3 separate regions of the Homo sapiens genome follow, and regions 2 and 3 are each linked to region 1. Evidence: fine-mapped expression QTL. A gene starts in region 1. Each other region holds a variant in brackets. All regions are shown on one strand. Distances are from middle to middle.

Region 1 (6,195 bases):
TAATAATAACTATAATAGAATGCGATGAGAAAGTGCTTGTTTTAGGTATTTTCATGGAGATTCAGATGAAGAAGCAATGATGTCAATTTAGGGGGGCGGTAAAAGAGGGGTCGCTAGAATCCATAAGAAGAGAGAATTAAAGGCTGCCAGCAATGATACCAGTAGCCATGTTGCATATCAATATCCTCCATGTACAAAGATTTTACTTATAACCCTTGCCAAGAGACATGAATAAATGTATTTACTAGCATGTATATTTCCCTTACTGGATAGAGAGGGAGAGATGAACACAAAAGCTGAAGAAAAGAGGTTTTGTTTAAATTGTGTCTGGAAAGTTGAATAGTTCATCAGATCTGGAGAGGAGATTCAGTGAAAAGGGAAGGGAAATCATTCAGAGGAGGAGAAAAGCAGGAACAAAGGGGTGGAAATTACCGGCAGGTTGGGGAACAAGCAGAGTGGTGACCTTAGAGCCCAGTGTGTGGGAGGGCCCAGATGACTGGAAATGCCTGCTGAGACCATGGATGGATTGGAACCTTCCAGGCCAGACCCAGCCCTCTATTCTGTGGCCAGCAGAGAGCCATTCAAAGAATGATGGGTGCTCAATGTTTATTGAACTGGTAGTTCCCTGAATTAGCTAGATGGAGACAGGTGAGAGAGAAGCAGGCTACTTAAGATGCATTGCAATAGCTCTAGAGTGGTAGATATGAGAGGACACATACAACATTTCAAACATTTCAGAAATCATTATTCCAATTCTGACTTGACACTTCCTAATATGGGATTGTGGGCAAATTATTTCCCTTACTTTCTGTCCTCTTATTTGCAAAGTGGGTATAATATTGGCTCATTCCTGGGTTGTCATAACACTAGAATAATTCTATGCAAAGCATCTGGTAGAATATCTAGCACAGACTAAATACTCAATATGAAGTAGCTATCTTATTATCAATAAAACTTCTTTGATGTGAATCTGTTTTAATATGCTCATTATCTAATCTTATCCCTACATTAAATATTTACACCATACAAAACTACTAATGTAATCAATCCATCTAATGAACAGTACCCATTATGAATCTGTTTCTAGAAATGTAAACTGAACATGATTTATTTGCATTTCTAGGTAGATGTTAGATTCTCTTTCAACGTTATTGTCTCTAAATTCACTGGTCATGTATTCAGAGAGCACTAAATACCAACCAAGTGTCATAAGGCATCAAGAAAATAGATAGTAAGCTGCTATCCTCGAGGAACTGACAACCCCAGTGAGACAAACAGGTGTGACCTTCAAGTAACCATGGCCCAGATTTGGCACAAGAGATGGAAATACTAGCAATGAAGTACCCAATTATGTGTATGCATCTGCTGGTAAGATGCTAAATCACATGTTCCAGGAGGTTACCACTCAACTGTTTTTTTAGGTTTGTGGGTTTCTTCCGCATGATACTATGTTATAAATCAATTGTAACTCTGAACTAACAGCATTACAAAAGATTGGTCACTCTCAGGAGCCTTACTACTTGCTTGAACAGCCACATCATTATTAAAGCATCATCCAACAAAAGTATCTTTGTTATACACTGAGATGAATAATTTCAAACCATTTTCATGTAAGATGTTCTGGCTCAGATCTGTCCCAGTCTTTAATGCTGAAGCTTTAGGGGGGAAAAACAGCTGGAGTTTAGGAAAGATTTTTGCTAAAGGCAGGAAATAATGATAAACATATTCCAGGAGATTTCAGATGTTAGTGAAAGCTTCACGCAAAATAAATGCCTAAGGCCAGAGGAAAATGCATTTCGCTTTTCGTATGGCGCTATGAGAAGAAACAGTGGTCCTGGGGATGCTTAACAAAAACCACCTACATAATTACTCAAATATTTCTCTTTGACACATACACGTCTCTTTGACACACATATTGAGAGAAACATCAATACTACTCTGTAGGGAAACAACAGTAAAACATAAACACTAATTTCCAAAGAAACTTTCATTGATGATGTAAATATAAATCTGCACCCTGGAGAAATGACTGATTCCCGCATTTTAGCAAGCAAATCTTATTCTGAAATACACACTTGTATTTACCCCCATCTACCTATGGTCGAAGCTCCAGGCTACATATTACAGTTGAATGAAGGTTGGATTAAGAGGCTAATCTAAGGCTATATATAGGCAGCAACACCAATTTAATCTCCGCCCTCTCCAACCTCCCCACCCTCCACTCCCTATTTCCATAAATCTCAAGATCTGAGTTACAAAGAGAACCGAGAACTCTAGCAGAGCAAAGAAGCCCTTCCTTCCCCCTCCCACAGGCTGTCTCTCATAAACGAAGTATTAGTGCAAGTGTAAATTGTTTCCAAACATCTTTAACAAGCAACATTGGGCGATCAGGTTTTCTTCTACAGCTTCCACAGAGGCCAAAGAGATGACAAGTAGTGGGGAGGGCGAGGATCACCAGCGTAAAAACTACCTTCTCCCGAGTCTGTTCTCACTGACTCGCTAGTAATGGGGCGCTGTCCTTGCGACCCCTACCTAGCCCAGAGCCCCGGCCCCAGCCTCCCCGGGAGCCGCATCTGGCGGTGCCACGCACGAGACCATGTGCACCCGCCACTTCCCACCGCGTGGCTGGCCCCCGCCCGCCCGCCCGCGGTCCCAGGGTCTCCCGAGGCGGCCAAACGTTGCGAGTCGGAGGTCTTCATCCCAGGGCACTGATACCCCGTACGCGCCGTGATGATGAGGTGGAGCGGGGGCTTCTCCACCGCGAGGCAGGAAGCCGCCCCAGGAGGCACATGCTTCCTCCCCGCCAGCTCCTGCCCGATGGAAACCCCGGCGGGGCGGCAGTCGCTACTCTCGCAACCCTCACGGCGCCCCTTGCCTCACCTGGGCTGCTTCTCACCTGTCCGAGGAGGTAGCGACGACGCGCAAGGCTGGGGGCTGCGGCGATTCGTGCAGCAGCAGCGGCAGCAGCAGCAGCAGCAGCAGTGGCGGCAGACAATGGAGGAGTGAAGGACAGACACATTGACATAGACACACGGAACCCGGCGCAGCCCCGCCTCCCGTACCGCCCCCGTCTCCTAGACCGCCCCCGCCCAGACTGCGCCACTCCCGGGGGAATGGTGGGGGTACGGCGACAACCTGGGGCCTCTGCATGCCCCAGAAAGCCGTCGCTGAGCACATAACTGCCAGCTGTAGAATTTTCAATATTACATGTGGCGAAATATTTGAACCGGACAGGATAGGGGAGCGGAACGTGTAGGAGGAATTTAATTCCCCCCTCCAGCTTTCTGCATTTGGTTTTGTCCTCCCAGGTTGCTCCAATGGCGATCTCTCGCTACCGCCTCCTGCGGCTCCTCCTCCTCGGCAGGGCCAATGACAGGCGGCAGGCGGTGACCGCCGCAGGGCCTGCGGAGACCGTCCGCCTGGCTCGCCCGAGCTCGCCCGCTGTCCGCCAGCCCGCGGGAGGGAGGAGAGAAGCGAAGCGTTTCCGCGGTTGGCTACTCAGTGTCTTGGTCTCAAGTTGCCTCATTGCGGCTGGCGTTCCCAATACAGACGCATCGTTTCTTTTTTAATACTCCCTAAGAAAGGGAATAACCTTCAAGCTGGCGGGAGCAATGGTTCACATAAAGAAAGGCGAGCTGACCCAGGAGGAGAAGGAGCTACTGGAAGTCATCGGGAAAGGTACGGGTGCTGGGCTGCGACGCGGCCGCGGCCAGCCTGGCCGGGGGGCGTGGCGGAGCCCGGGGGGCGCTCCTGGCCTGGGTGACCTTTGGCTGCGGTTCTGCAAGGTTTGCAGCCTGGAACCGGGAAAGAGCGTTTCTCCCTTTGGTCTGGGAAAGGTTGCAGGGGCGGAGAGGTGGGGAGGCAGAAGCAGTGCTGGGACAAGAGGGGTAGTTACAGAGGCTCGGCCTCTAAATCCGCTTTTGGAAACGTACGGATTTCCACGCCCCGCCTTAGGTTAATGCGAGCTTCCCGGGGTGTGGACCCCAGTGTGTGAATTCTTCACTGCTCCCGAGGGATTTTGACCGCGGTCAGTCCTGGTAGTTTCAGGTTCTTAGGCGGGTGTCTAAATGACCCTTTAGACTTCCGCAGGCCGAATGATCTGGATCCTTTGCCGATCCCCGCCCCCGCTTGGGAGTGGAGGGCGCCCTTAGGGAGAGGGGTTCTTCATAAGGGTACAGAACTAGGTCTGTAATTTGCTGCATTGAGACTTCCGTATCCAGGGCCTCCCTGGCTTCCAGAAGCCCCGACAGCCTCAGGAACCCTAGAGAGACAAGGAAATTGGCGAGGCCTCCACACCCACCCCTCGGCCCACGTTGCACAGATGAGACCTTCTAATCGCGCTCCTTCGCGCTTTCTTGTCCACTCCCCCAAGGCGTGCCCCACTTCCGCAGTGCTGAGTCCCAGCGGGGAGCCCCGAGGACGAGCCAGAAGCCATATTTCCCCGGAGTCCCCGAGTGGACGTCCCAGAGGAGTTCCCTGCCGAGTCCCGTTACCTGGCAGGTGACATCAGCGTGACTGCATGCTTCTTCTGCACCCTCACGGTGCAGGGATGGTGATGCGTGCGACTCCGGGCAATTAATGTGGTGATTTTAAACTCAATAATAATATAGCCATGTTTGTCCTCGAATGGCAGAGATGCCAGTCATTGCAGCATAAGGCTTCCCAGTTTCCAGTTTTATTTACTTAGTAGCCAGGCTGAAATGTGGAATCCTAGAGAATAAGGCAGATTTATTCTTCATAGCGACAAGGAAACTCCACATGCGAAGGAGAAAAAATTCCGGTTTGAACTCAACAGGTGCTGATGAGCTGAGCCCACCCGATCTGATCTCAACTATTCTAAGTCAGTCACAGCTATATCTATCAATGATGTGTTCTTTGCCTGGAATTTGGGGATTTGGGTTAGAGTTTAGATTGTTGTACTGCATGGTTCTTGCTGACCTATTTGGCATTTCAGTCTTTCAGTTCTTCCTGTCTCTAGGTAATTTCTCCCTGCCTTTGATGGCTCTGGGATTCAATTAAGCAAACATGCAAGTTCTAGCTGTGTGCCAGGTACTGTGCTGGGCAAAAAGGAGACAAAGGATCAATTCACAATCCACCAGGGACAAAAATTCTTTTAGGCAGGACAGAGCTAGTACATGTCCTCTCTCTCTCTCGCTCTCGCTGTCTCTTTCTCTCTCTCTCTCGTTTGTTTGAGACAGGATCTCACTCTTCACCCAGGCTGGAGTTGCAGCTCTCTGCAGCCTCCACCTCCCTAGTGGCTGGGACTACAGGTGCGAGCCACCATGCCCGGCTACTTTAGAAAGATTTTTTTTTTTTTTTTGTAGAGATGGGGTGGTGGGGGTCTCCCTATGTTGCCCAGGCTGCTCTCGAACTCCTGGGCTCAAGTGATCCTCCTGCCTCGGCCTCCCTAAGTGCTGGGATTACAGGCATGAGCCACTGGGCCTGGCCCATCATGTGATCTCTTAAAAGTGAAAAATAGTGAGCAGTTTTATAAATTGAGTCTTTGAGAGGGGAGAAGGGATTCCTTGGATACATTCTCAGGTGTCCATCAGTATTTATTTTGAAGATTATATAAACCTGAATTAATGTGCATTTATTCTGGTTAGTGCTGTGATATTTCTGGGCTCACACGGTGCATCAAGTTGCATGAGTGCACTGATGCTTTCATCGCTTTCATTGGACCATGCCAATGAGAAAAGAACTGATGTGGACCTAGTATGTGATGCATTCTTGTCAAATGAAGGTCTGTGGGACATCACTTGCACTCATAAAGAAAAGTAATGGGAGATATGAGAAAAACAACCATAGCCAACGTTTATTGACTGTTATTGCAAGCCACACATAATTTTAAGTACTTTACATATATTAATGCATTTAATTTGGATGAGCTAGGAATTAATTTTAAGCTATGACAGTATGAGAGACAGCATGGGATAGTGGTTAACCATGCAGGTCTGGTTTGAAATTCTAACTCATTTACTGGTGATGTGGCCTTTGGGCAAGTGACTTTTCCTGAGCCTCAAGTCCTCTGTGTGAAAAATAGGAATAATAATAATACCCACCTCACAACGTTGTTATGGGGATGAAAGTAGTTAGTATAGTTAAAGCATTCGAAATACTGCTTGTGTTTGTGATAAATATAGTAATCTTCACTTTATAGGCAAGGCAACTGAGGAACTGGGAAGTTAGGAAACT
Region 2 (6,195 bases), 30 kb after region 1:
GTTTCTTCACATACAGTTGTAAATTTCCTCACAATTACTTGGGTTGATTTTGATAACTGTGTTCATAACCCACTTGCATTAGATTTGCTTGGTTGAATGTCATTTTTCTCTCTTGAAGATTCTGGAAGGAGAGGTGATCATTTTCTAAACAGAGCACCTTGGCTCATTTCACATTTTTAATATAGACTGCTACTGTTTGACTTTTCAAGACGTATGTACTGGGGAAAGAAATAAAAGAAATACCCACCTCCCCGAATCCCCCCAAAAAGAAAGAAATTGGGTGTTCTGGTACTTAATAAAAGCATAGAGTACCAAAAATGGTATTGTGATCACTATTAAATTCTCTTTTCAAATCAGGGAAGTTTTCTTTTATCATTTGTTTAATTCTCCATCTATTCCTTTTTTTCCTTTGAGATGTCTGTTAATTTTCACTATTAGATTTCCTGGATTTGTTCTTTAGCTCTTTCATCTGTTGTATAATGATTTCTATATCTGAATTTTTCTGTTTTGAGATATTTCATCCACTCGATCTTTTTTGTTTGTTTTGTTGAAACAGGGTGTCTGTTACCCAGGCTTGAATGCAGTGGTGTGATCAAAACTCACTGCAGCTTTGGCTGGGCATGGTGGCTCACGCCTGTAATCCCAGCACTTTGGGAGGCTAAGGCAGGCAGATCACCTGAGGTCAGGAGTTTGAGACCAGCCTGGCAAACATAGTGAAACCCCATCTGAAAATACAAAATAGATTAGCCAGGTGTGGTGGCACACACCTGTAGTCTCAGCTACTTGGGAAGCTGAGTCAGGAGAATTGCTTGAATCCAGGAGGCAGAGGTTGCAGTGAGCCAAGATCACGTGACTGCACTACAGCCTGGGCAACAGAGCCAGACTCTGTCTCACCCAAAAAAAAAAAAAAAAAAAAAAAACACGCTCACTGTAGCCTCCAACTCCTGGCCCCAAGCAATCCTCCTGCCTTAGTATCCCAAGTAGCTGGGACTACAGGCACATACCACTGTATCCAGCTAATTTTTTAAATTATTTGTAGAAACGGGTTTGTGCTGTGTTACCCAGGCTGGTCTGCACCTCCTGGGCTTAAGCAATCCTCCTGCCTCAGCCTCCCAAAGTGCTGGGATTATAGGCATGAGCCACCATGCCTGCCCTTCATCCTCTGTGTTACTAGTTTAGTTCTCAATAGTAACCAGGATCACCTCTTTCAGTTTGCCTGTTAATTTTTAAAATTTGAATCTCTCTGCGGCTCTTGAAAGTCTATTTATATATTATAATTGAATCTGCTTAAGTGCATTTATTAGCTGTAGTTGTGGTAGTTATTGTTATGGTAAATGTTACCCACACACTTTCAACCCAAGAAGCCCTCTGTTGGAGGCATGGCGTAGTCTTCAGAATTGCTGGATCCCCATACGTACCTTGTTCTGTACCTCCCAGGAAGTCAGGTAAAGCTGATAGGGTCCTGGATCAGTGGAAGAAGAAAATTTAATGTCTCAATTAAGACATTAATTAATTACTTTAGAAAATTATCACTCTCCTTATAGAATCTTCAAGAAGAGAGAAAAATGACATTCAACCAAGCAAATCTAATGCAAGTGGGTTATGAATACAGCATCAAAATCAACACAGGTAACTGTGGGGAAATTTAGAAATGTGTATGAAGAAACCAGGGAAGATGAAGACAAACTGCATATGCTTCCTTAAAACAAAATCTACATCGAGCTTCAATAAAAAGATAGGTGTTCCCATAAAAAAAAAAAGTTCTAAAATGTCTCATCAAAAGTATTCAACCATTTAATTGAGACATTAAGCTGGTTTGGTCAGCAAACCAGCTGAGGCACAAGGATGAAGCCTGCCACTCCTGGGTTCTCCCAGGAACTTTCAGGGACAAGCAGAGCCCTCTGCCAGCCTCAAGCGCCAGCGTCCAGCTGGCCCACAGTGCCATCCCCACGCAGGTCACCTGTTGTCGGCAGGATCAAGCAGGCGCTCCCAGGACCAAGCACAAGCAGGCAGGGGCCATGCAGGCTACCCAGGGGGAACCACTCTCCGGGAGCGGGGGCCATGGCGTCTGCACGCTCTCCCCAGGCGCGCCTCCGCTGGTCCCCCAGCCCTCATCAGGCAGAGCGGAGGAAGAAGTCTCCTCCGGAGATCCAGGAAGAGCCTGCGCCCGCCCTCCTGTGTGCCCTGTGGCTTCTGCCTGCTTGCCCAGAGTGGCCACTGCTTTGCTCCAGAGAGGTAGTGGAGAGGGAGCTAGGGAGGGGGGGGCGCCGCAGGAGCACACTTGCAAACCAGCAGCTTCGCTAGGGAAGAATTTGCTTTCATAGAACCATTTTTAACTAGAGATGGCTTAGAGAAGTGGCTTGGAATTCTATGCAAAGCCACGATGTGGATTCCAAGCTTATGGGAGCGAAAGCCTTTTCTCTACATTTCACAAAGAGGGCAAGCTTTTCTCAAATTTAGGGGGTAGGGGATAAGGGGGAGGGGGTTTAGTTTAATATTATCATTATAGTAAGAACAATACTTTATATGGAGTAAATTTAAATTTTGTGTAAATACAACTGGATGTGATTAGGGAAACATGAGCATCATTTGCGTAGGCTGGGAAGAAGAGACATTTAACTTACAAGCAACTGTTAGAAAATACTTAAGGTCTCTTACAAGTTGAGCAGTGCTTTCTTTTGTAATCCACATAATCTTCGTATGTATTTTGGATTCTGTGTCTTTCAAAGATTGTTTATCAACTTTACAAGGAATGTTTATAAATGTTCTCTAAAATATTTTATCTCTCCTCCTCCTCCTCTACTCTCCTTTCCTGAAAAATAAAGATATTGGTGCATGTTTACATCACAAAAATAGCAACATAATTAATTTTAAAAACCAGATGTGTTATTTTTAATACTAAAACTACAACTTTTCTATTTTTCTATGAAAAGGTCAACATGATTGTGTGACCATAATCAACAATTTCTTTCCTCGAGAGAGACTGGATTATTACACTAAGCCCCAGGGACTGGATAAAGAGCCAAAACTGCCCCCAAAGTTGGCAGGCCCGCTGCACAAAATTATCACCACAAC[G/A]AATCTTCATCCTGTCAAGGTAGTGTGGTGTCTACCGTATTTGCTTTTTATGTAAATATTGCTTCAGAGTTTAAACTGCTTTTATTATACAGGATCATAATTGTCTTGGGGTGGGTTTTGTAGTTGTAGAGCTTGCAGTGGGCTCTTTTGGCCTGTTAATTTATTGAAGGAACACTCTCCGTTGAAACCTGGAAGTGAGTGAGCGAGAGAGAAACAGACTAAACCATCAGGAAAAGCCACGCAAAGAGATGGGTTTGCTGAAGCCTAGCTTCCACCTCATCCCACCGGGAGCTCTGGAGTGTGAGTGGCTCCAGAGAGGCAAAGGAATTCTTTTGTATTCATCAGTCTGTTGTTGGGTGGGGCCTGTCTCCAGAGGGAAAGGACAGCCTCCCACATAGTACCAAGTGAGGTGGCTCCCTTTCAATGAGGGTAGTCCTCTGGAGAAAAGACCATAGTAGCTGACCCTGAGAGCCCCGGGGGCCTGGTATACAGGCCTGGTAAAAAGGATGTATGTGGGGGCACTAACAGCATCTATTACAATAATTGTCTTTCTAAGAAAGATTCTGAAATGTAATCATGAGCACATTTTTAAACTAAGTGGCTATTTGATGCCTTTAAATAACATAGTTCTTCCAGTAATTCATCAAATCAGATTTTCAAATTTCATAGGCCAACACATAAGTTCAAATGGCTTAACTGGGAAACTTCAAGAGCTATTCTGAAATATTTCACTGCTATTGTCTTCCAGATTTTAAAAATACAGGCTTTTGCTGTTGTTGTTTACACATAATTTTTTCAAAAAAATCCAGCTAAACAAGTATAATTTCCTCAATAATCATCACAGAAAACTACACAGCTACATGTGTGCTACAGTGATGAGGTCCTATTTCAATTTCAGTATCTATCACATGCTTTTACTCATAAAGATTTGATAGTAGTTCAGAGCTGTTTAAGTGAGCAAGATACTAAGTTGTGTCAAAAGTTAAGGTTCTTCCTTAACATAAGGCGTTACTATCATGTAGTAAAATAGATTTCCCCAGAAGTTTATTACGAAAGAAGAATCTGTGGAGTCTGCTGAGCATCATGAAAATGAGTGGACAGTTCTTATAAGGTGACTCTTCTGAAGACTGACACTCACTCAAAGATATAAGATCCAAAATGTGTATAATCTTATTACTTTGTTGATGCATCCCTGTGCATCTTTCTTGAGTACTTGAAGGTTGAGAAACAAACCAAATTTACTCATTGTGTGTTCCTCCACCCAAATTAATTTTCTAGGCCCTTAAGAGAGATGACAAACTAGTAGATACCTTTCCCATCAGACAGAAGAGTGGAATCTGCTATTTTTATTTTAGAAAACTCAGAGTTTTTCTTAATATTCTGGAAGAACTGCCAGAGGCAACACTTGTGATACTAAGTGGGCAAATTCAGTTGTGAACTGCATACTCATGTTTCTAGTGGAGATTACAGAGGGCTTAGAATTTAACCTTTAAAAAATATGTATTTTCTTCTGTGTTACTGTTTCTCTCCCTCCCAGCATACCTAGGGAAAAGAGAACTCCCAAGAGAAGCATTGACCTCTGTCCATGGCACTCTCTCAGGCATGGGCTGGCTGGGATGGGGAGACAGGTTTCTGTCAGGGTACAGTATTTCTCAATGTAGAGAATGTGTGTGGTTCTGTAAGACTCTTGTTCCTCCACTGCCTGAGCAATACAGGATATTCTGGCTTAGACTGACTTGAAGAAGTTCCCTGTACTTTTCTGATTCACTGTCTTTCATATCTATGTTTCTGCCTCTTCAGATTGCAGTAAGGGTTTGTGGAATTTTTTTTTTTTTTTTTTTTGAGATAGGGTCTTGCTCTGTCGCCCAGCCTGGAGTGCAGTGGTACAGATCTCGGCCTTCCAGGTTAAAGCGATTCTCCTGCCTCAGCCTCCTGAGTAGCTGGGATTACAGGTGCCCACCACCACGCCTGGCTAATTTTTGTATTTTGGGTAGAGATGGGGTTTCTCCATGTTGGCCAGGCTTATGGAATAATTTTTTATGTTTACTTGGAACCCAGTCTTTCAGGGTTAAATGTCCTAATAATTATTAATACTCTACCTTCAGTTATCTTTGAAGGTATATATTTTAAGTAAATTAGATTGAGGGCATAATTATGCAGACAATAATTTGTAAAGGTATATAGTCTGAAATAGACTACATAATATTTTTTGGAGTATGAAGGGGGCTATCCTATTATATACCTTCCTCCAGACCAGACCTTGCTTTTTGTAGGTATAAACAATCTATTCGCTCGAAACCTTTTCTTTTATCCACCCTTGGGATCTAAAAGCCACCCAGTTGCTTTTGTTACTGTGGCCCATTTTTATTGCTCTACCCCCTTTTTAAGCTAGCATGGCATTTCCTATGGAGTATTATTTAAAAACTAATAACCACTGTGTAATGTTAAACAGCTTTTAAAACAACCTCGGAAATTCTCCCCAATACACACCTCACTTTTCATTACAGTGCACCTAATATAGCTGTATTTGTGTCTAGATTAAGTGGCTGCCGTAGCAATAAGGATGCATTTGTTTTCAAAAGGGATTTGGAGGATTGTGCTGATGCCCAGAATATGAAGGTTATCTAGGAGAAAAACAAAATCACAGAAAAAAATGTCAGCAGAGCAGGGTCTCTAAGTGTACAGGAGGCAGATGTGCACAGAACAATCATGTCTTTGATTATTGTGATTTTCAAGCCCAGTATTGTAGATTTAGCAGTTTTTAAAAATAGGATTTAAAAAATAAAAAGAATTCAAAATGCCACTACATAAACATATTCTCAGGTAGCAATCCTTTGAATGGTAAAAATTTATCTAGTTTTTAATGCCAATAGAAATATATTTATTTGCTCCTCCTCATTAATTAATAAAAAGGATTTCCTTTATAATATATTACTTCATAATGCTGCAGAGATTAAGGAAGGAAACAAGTACAAATATTATTCTTTTGTGTGCAGCTATGTAGTTGTTTCAATAAGCGCATGTTAATGATGTGGTTATTTGTCATTTTTCTTGGTGTATATTTGTGCTGTGTATTAAAACATAGATAAGGTCTGATGTCTCCAAACAAAAAATTATTAA
Region 3 (6,195 bases), 920 kb before region 1:
CTGCCTCCTCAAGTGGGTCCCTGACCCCCGAGTAGCCTAACTGGGAGGCATCCCCCAGTAGGGGCAGACTGACACCTCACATGGCCAGGTACCCTCTGAGATGAAACTTCCAGAGGAACGATGGGGCAGCAACATTTGCTGTTTAGCAATACCTGCTGTTCGGCAGCCTCCACTGCTGATACCCAGGCAAATAGGGTCTGGAGTGGACCTCTAGCAAACTCCAACAGACCTGCAGCTGAGGGTCCTGATTGTTAGAAGGAAAACTAACAAACAGAAAGGACAACCACACCAAAACCCCATCTGTACGTCACTATCATCAAAGACGAAAGGTAGATAAAACCACAAAGTTGGGGAAAAAAATAGAGCAGAAAAGCTGAAAATTCTAAAAATCAGAGTGCCTCTCCCCCTCCAAAGGAACGCAGCTCCTCACCAGCAACAGAACAAAGATGGATGGAGAATGACTTTGGCGAGTTGAGAGAAGAAGTCTTCAGACGATCAAACTTCTCCAGGCTAAAGGAGGAAGTTTGAACCCATTGCAAAGAAGCTAAAAACCTTGAAAAAAGATTAGACGAATGGCTAACTAGAATAACCAGTGTAGAGAATGACCTGATGCAGTTGAAACCCTGATGGAGTTGAAAACCATGGCACAAGAACTACGTGACGAATGCACAAGCTTCAGTAGCCGATTTGATCAACTGGAAGAAAGAGTATCAGTGACTGAAGATCAAATGAATGAAATGAAGCAAGAAGAGAAGTTTAGAGAAAAAAGAGTAAGAAGCAATAAAGACTCCAAGAAATATGGGACTGTGTGAAAAGACCAAATCTACATCTGATTAGTATACCTGAAAGTGACAGGGAGAATGGAACCAAGTTGGAAAACACTCTGCAGGATATTATGCAGGAGAACTTCCCCAACTTAGCAAGGCAGGCCAACATTCAAATTCAAGAAATACAGAGAATGCAACAAAGATACTCCTCAAGAAGAGCAACTCCAAGACACATAATTGTCAGATTCACCAAAGTTGAAATGAAGGAAAAAATGTTAAGGGCAGCCAGAGAGAAAGGTTGGGATACTCACAAAGGGAAGCCCATCAGACTAACAGCGGATCTCTTGGCAGAAACTCTACAAGCCAGAAGAGAGTGGGGGCCAATATTCAACATTCTTAAAGAACAGAATTTTCAACCCAGAATTTCATATCCAGCCAAAGTAAGCTTCATAAGTGAAGGAGAAATAAAATACTTTACAGACAAGCAAATGCTGAGAGATTTTGTCACCACCAGGCCTGCCCTAAAAGAGCTCCTGAAGGAAGCACTAAACATGGAAAGGAACAACCAGTACCAGCCACTGCAAAAACATGCCAAATTGTAAAGACCATCGATGCTAGGAAGAAACTGCATCACTAATGAGCAAAGTAACCAGTTAACATCATAATGACAGGATCAAATTCACAAGTAACAATATTACCTTTAAATGTAAATGGGCTAAATGCTCCAATTAAAAGACACAGACTGGCAAATTGGATAAAGAGTCAAGACCCATCAGTGTGCTGTATTCAGGAGACCCATCTCACATGCAGAGACACACATAGGCTCAAAATAAAGGGATGGAGGAAGATCTACCAAGCAAGTGCAAAACAAAAAAAGGCAGGGGTTACAATCCTAGTCTCTGATAAAACAGTCTTTAAACCAACAAAGATTAAAAGAGACAAAGAAGGCCATTACATAATGGTAAAGGGATCAATTCAACAAGAAGAGCTACCTATCCTAAATATATATGCACCCAATACAGGAGCACCCAGATTCATAAAGCAAGCCCCTAGAGACCTACAAAGAGACTTAGACTCCCACTCAATAATAATGGGAGACTTTAACACCCCACTGTCAACATTAGACAGATCAACAAGACAGAACGTTAACAAGGATATCCAGGACTTGAACTCAGCTCCACACCAAGTGGACCTAATAGACATCTACAGAACTCTCCACCCCAAATCAAAAGAATATATATTCTTAGCACCACATAGCACTTATTCCGAAATTGACCACATAGTTGGAAGTAAAGCACTCCTCAGCAAATGTAAAAGAACAGAAATTATAACAAATTCTCTCTCAGACCACAGTGCAATCAAACTAGAACTCAGGATTAAGAAACTCACTCAAAACCGCTCAACTACATGGAAACTGAACAACCTGCTCCTGAATGACTGCTGGGTACGTAACAAAATGAAGGCAGAAATAAAGATGTTCTTTGAAACCAGTGAGAACAAAGACACAACATACCAGAGTCTCCGGGACACATTCAAAGCAGTGTGTAGAGGGAAATTTATAGCACTAAATGCCCACAAGAGAAAGCAGGAAAGACCTAAAGTTGACACCCTAACATCACAATTAAAAGAACTAGAGAAGCAAGAGCAAACACATTCAAAAGCTAGCAGAAGCCAAGAAATAACTAAGACCAGAGCAGAAATGAAGGCGACAGAGACACAAAAAACCCTTCAAAAAAATCAATGAGTCCAGGAGCTGGTTTTTTGAAAAAATCAACAAAATTGGTAGACTGCTAGCAAGACTAATAAAGAAGAAAAGAGAGACGAATCAAATAGATGCAATAAAAAATGATAAAGGGGATATCACCACTGATCCCACAGAAATACAAACTACCATCAGAGAATACTATAAACACCTCTGCGCAAATAAACTAGAAAATCTAGAAGAAATGGATAAATTCCTCGACACATACACCTTCCCAAGTCTAAACCAGGAAGAAGTTGAATCTCTGAATAGACCAATAACAGGCTCTGAAATTGAGGCAATAATTAATAGCCTACCAACCAAAAAAAATCCAGGACCATACGAATTCACAGCCGAATTGTACCAGAGGTACAAGGAGGAGCTGATACCATTCCTTCTGAAACTATTCCAATCAATAGAAAAAGAGGGAATCCTCCCTAACTCATTTTATGAGGCTAGCATCATCCTGATACCAAAGCCGGGCAGAGACACAACAAAAAAAAGAGAATTTTAGACCAATATCCATGATGAACATTGATGCAAAAATCCTCAATAAAATACTGGCAAACTGAATCCAGCAGCACATCAAAAAGCTTATCCATCATGATCAAGTGGGCTTCATCCCTGGGATGCAAGGCTGGTTCAACAGATGCAAATTAAGAAACATAATGCAGCATATAAACAGAACCAAAGACAAAAACCACATGATTATCTCAATAGATGCAGAAAAGTCCTTTGACAAAATTCAGCAGGCCTACATGCTAAAAACTCTTCATAAATTAGGTATTGATGGGACGTATCTCAAAATCATAAGAGCTATTTATGACAGACCCACAGCCAATATCATACGGAATGGAATATCGTGAAAATGGCCATACTGCCCAAGGTAATTTATAGATTCAATGCCATCCCCATCAAGCTACCAATGACTCTCTTCACAGGATTGGAAAAAATTACTTTACAGTTCATATGGAATCAAAAAAGAGCCCACATTGCCAAGTCAATCCTAAGCCAAAAGAACAAAGCTGGAGGCATCACGCTACCTGACTTCAAACTATACTACAAGGCTACAGTAACCAAAACAGCATGGTACTG[G/A]TACCAAAACAGAGATATAGATCAATGGAACACAACAGAGCCCTCAGAAATAATACCACACATCTACAACCATCTGATCTTTGACAAACCTGACAAAAACAAGAAATGGGGAAAGGATTCCCTATTTAATAAATGGTGCTGGGAAAACTGGCTAGCCATATGTAGAAAGCTGAAACTGGACCCTTTTCTTATACCTTATGCAAAAATTAATTCCAGATGGATTAAATACTTACATGTTAGACCTAAAACCATGAAAATCCTAGAAGAAAACCTAGGCAATACCATTCAGGACATAGGCATGGGCAAGGACTTCATGTCGAAAACACCAAAAGCAATGGCAACAAAAGCCAAAATTGATAAATGGGATCTAATTAAACTAAAGAGCTTCTGCACAGCAAAAGAAACTACCATTAGAGTGAACAGGCAACCTACAGAATGGGAGAAAAAATTTGCAGTCTACTCATCTGACAAAGGGCTAATATCCAGAATTTACAAAGAACTCAAACAAATTTACAAGAAAAAAACAACTCATCAACGTGTGGGCAAAGGGTGTGAACAGACACTTCTCAAAAGAAGACATTGATGCAGCCAACAGACACATGAAAAAATGCTCATCATCACTGGCCATCGGAGAAATGCAAATCAAAACCACAATGAGATACCATCTCACACCAGTTAGAATGGCAATCATTAAAAAGCCAGGAAACAACAGATGCTGGAGAGGATGTGGAGAAATAGGAACACTTTTACACTGTTGGTGGGACTGTAAACTAGTTCAACCATTGTGGAAGTCAGTGTGGTGATTCCTCAAGGATCTAGAATTAGAAATACCATTTGACCCAGCCATCCCATTACTGGGTATATACCCAAAGGATTGTAAATCATGCTGCTATAAAGACACATGCACACGTATGTTTATTGCGGCACTATTCACAATAGCAAAGACTTGGAACCAACCCAAATGTCCATCAATGATAGACTGGATTAAGAAAATGAGGCACATATACACCATGGAATACTATGCAGCCATAAAAAAGGATGAGTTCATGTCCTTTGTAGGGACATGGATGAAGCTGGAAACCATCATTCTGAGCAAACTATCTCAAGGACAAAAAACCAAACACCATATGTTCTCACTCATAGGTGGGAACTGAACAATGAGAACACTTGGACACAGGGCGGGGAACATCACACACCGGGGCTTGTTGTTGGGTGAGGGGAGTGGGGAGGGATAGCATTAGGAGATATAACTAATGTAAATGACGAGTTAATGGGTGTAGCACACCAACATAGCACCTGTATACATATGTAACAAACCTGCACATTGTGCACATGTACCCTAGAACTTAAAGTATAATAAAAAAAGAAAAATAAAACTATACTTTGCCTTTTTATGACATTGATAGTAAAGTAGATTAAGTAATATTAATTATAGACTCCTAGAAAGTAGGTAGTATACATTTCCTTTCTCAACACAGGACATACTAGAAAATTGCTTTTATAAGTGATCTCTTTGGCTTTTCTGTTTTTCCAATTAATTGGTTATAACCATACCACTTAAATCTTATCTTTCTGAGCACCATGAAAATGCTCATGATTGTAATACTTTTCATAAGCACATGTCTAAAAATGGTTTGTATTTGTATGTTTTTTAGAATATGATGTTTTAAAAATATTTTATGCAGATATCTTTGTGGTTTTTTTATGGATAAACTGTCATATACCATAGTCTTATTGTTTTCTTGTGGATTAATGCAGACTGGACAGATTGAGACTCTGGGTACATTTTTTAGAATAGTTTAAACATATTATATAACATATTGAAACTGTAGAATATTTTTCCAGAACTTTAAGGAAATTTATAATTTTACTGCTTGGCTCTTTGTCCATCAGATTGTTACTTGGTTAAATGACTTTTGATTAAACAAAATACTAAGGCTAATAACCTTGTGTTTCATCCAAGTAAAAATATAAGGATGAGATGTTTTATGTGCTCTAAAATAAGCTAGTTATTTTATTGTCTGGCTGATAGTACCCTGTTATGTAGAGGACTACTTGTTATATTTAAATTGGTAACTGGGTATTTGTGGAGTGTATGAAATAAAAAATGTTTTAATAGCACTGATATGTATAGTACTTTAAAATTTCTTGGTAACTTCCTCAACATCTTATGAGATAAACAGGAGGAAATTACTATTGTGTCAATTTGGTAGCCAGGGCATTAACAATTTAGGTAAATTTCCAGGTCTGTACAAGGAGTCAGGATTAGAATAGCCTTCAGGTTTTGAAGGCAAATGCATTCTTCAAATCCGGGCTTCTGATGAGTCACAGTGGTGAGGAAGAAGCCCCTTTTAAGAGATCCTTACTCTCTGCTATTTCTGTGGGTAGCACTGTTTTGGTTTATTTGAAACCAACTTCCTCATAAATCGTTAAGTTGGAAAGGATATGTGGTCAGTTTATTATTCTTAAAACATATGCAAAGGCATTTGTCTAGTCGTGGAAATAAAGTATATTAGAAGCATCTCTTGTGCAATCTGTACTCTATTGCTCATATTAATTGCTTTCCTACACATTTAAAACTAGGTTTCAAGT

Direction of the effects. Positions count from the first base shown, and alleles are read on the strand shown. Sizes are in standard deviations (SD) of each study's normalised expression. Not every link is listed here.
For the expression in lymphoblastoid cells of the gene that starts at base 3,431 in region 1, allele G in region 3 goes with a higher level than allele A (large effect, 1.4 SD a copy in GTEx).

What was found. PIP is the estimated chance that this variant, and not a neighbour inherited with it, causes the effect.
Region 2: its variant is fine-mapped to the expression of ANKMY2 in whole blood (TOPMed, PIP above 0.99).
Region 3: its variant is fine-mapped to the expression of ANKMY2 in lymphoblastoid cells (GTEx, PIP above 0.99).

The regions. Positions count from the first base shown.
Region 1 is chr7:16,642,990-16,649,184 of GRCh38, reverse strand. ANKMY2 (ankyrin repeat and MYND domain containing 2) reads left to right here and starts at 3,431. Exons shown (of 10, transcript NM_020319.3): 1 at 3,431-3,678. The coding sequence starts at 3,612. It overlaps BZW2 (basic leucine zipper and W2 domains 2), which reads right to left and starts at 3,004. Exons shown (of 12, transcript NM_014038.3): 1 at 2,897-3,004. RefSeq lists enhancers at 319-830, 3,025-3,304.
Region 2 is chr7:16,612,643-16,618,837 of GRCh38, reverse strand. It overlaps ANKMY2 (ankyrin repeat and MYND domain containing 2), which reads left to right. Exons shown (of 10, transcript NM_020319.3): 5 at 2,934-3,094. LOC105375169 (a long non-coding RNA gene) reads right to left here. Exons shown (of 5, transcript XR_007060226.1): 2 at 5,566-5,699; 3 at 2,659-2,812; 4 at 1,419-1,462. Among named protein-coding and RNA genes, the nearest start is that of ANKMY2, 30 kb to the left of the region's middle. The variant G/A (reference allele first, on the strand shown) is at 3,076.
Region 3 is chr7:17,564,812-17,571,006 of GRCh38, reverse strand. No RefSeq gene overlaps it. Among named protein-coding and RNA genes, the nearest start is that of LINC02889, 9.0 kb to the right of the region's middle. The variant G/A (reference allele first, on the strand shown) is at 3,604.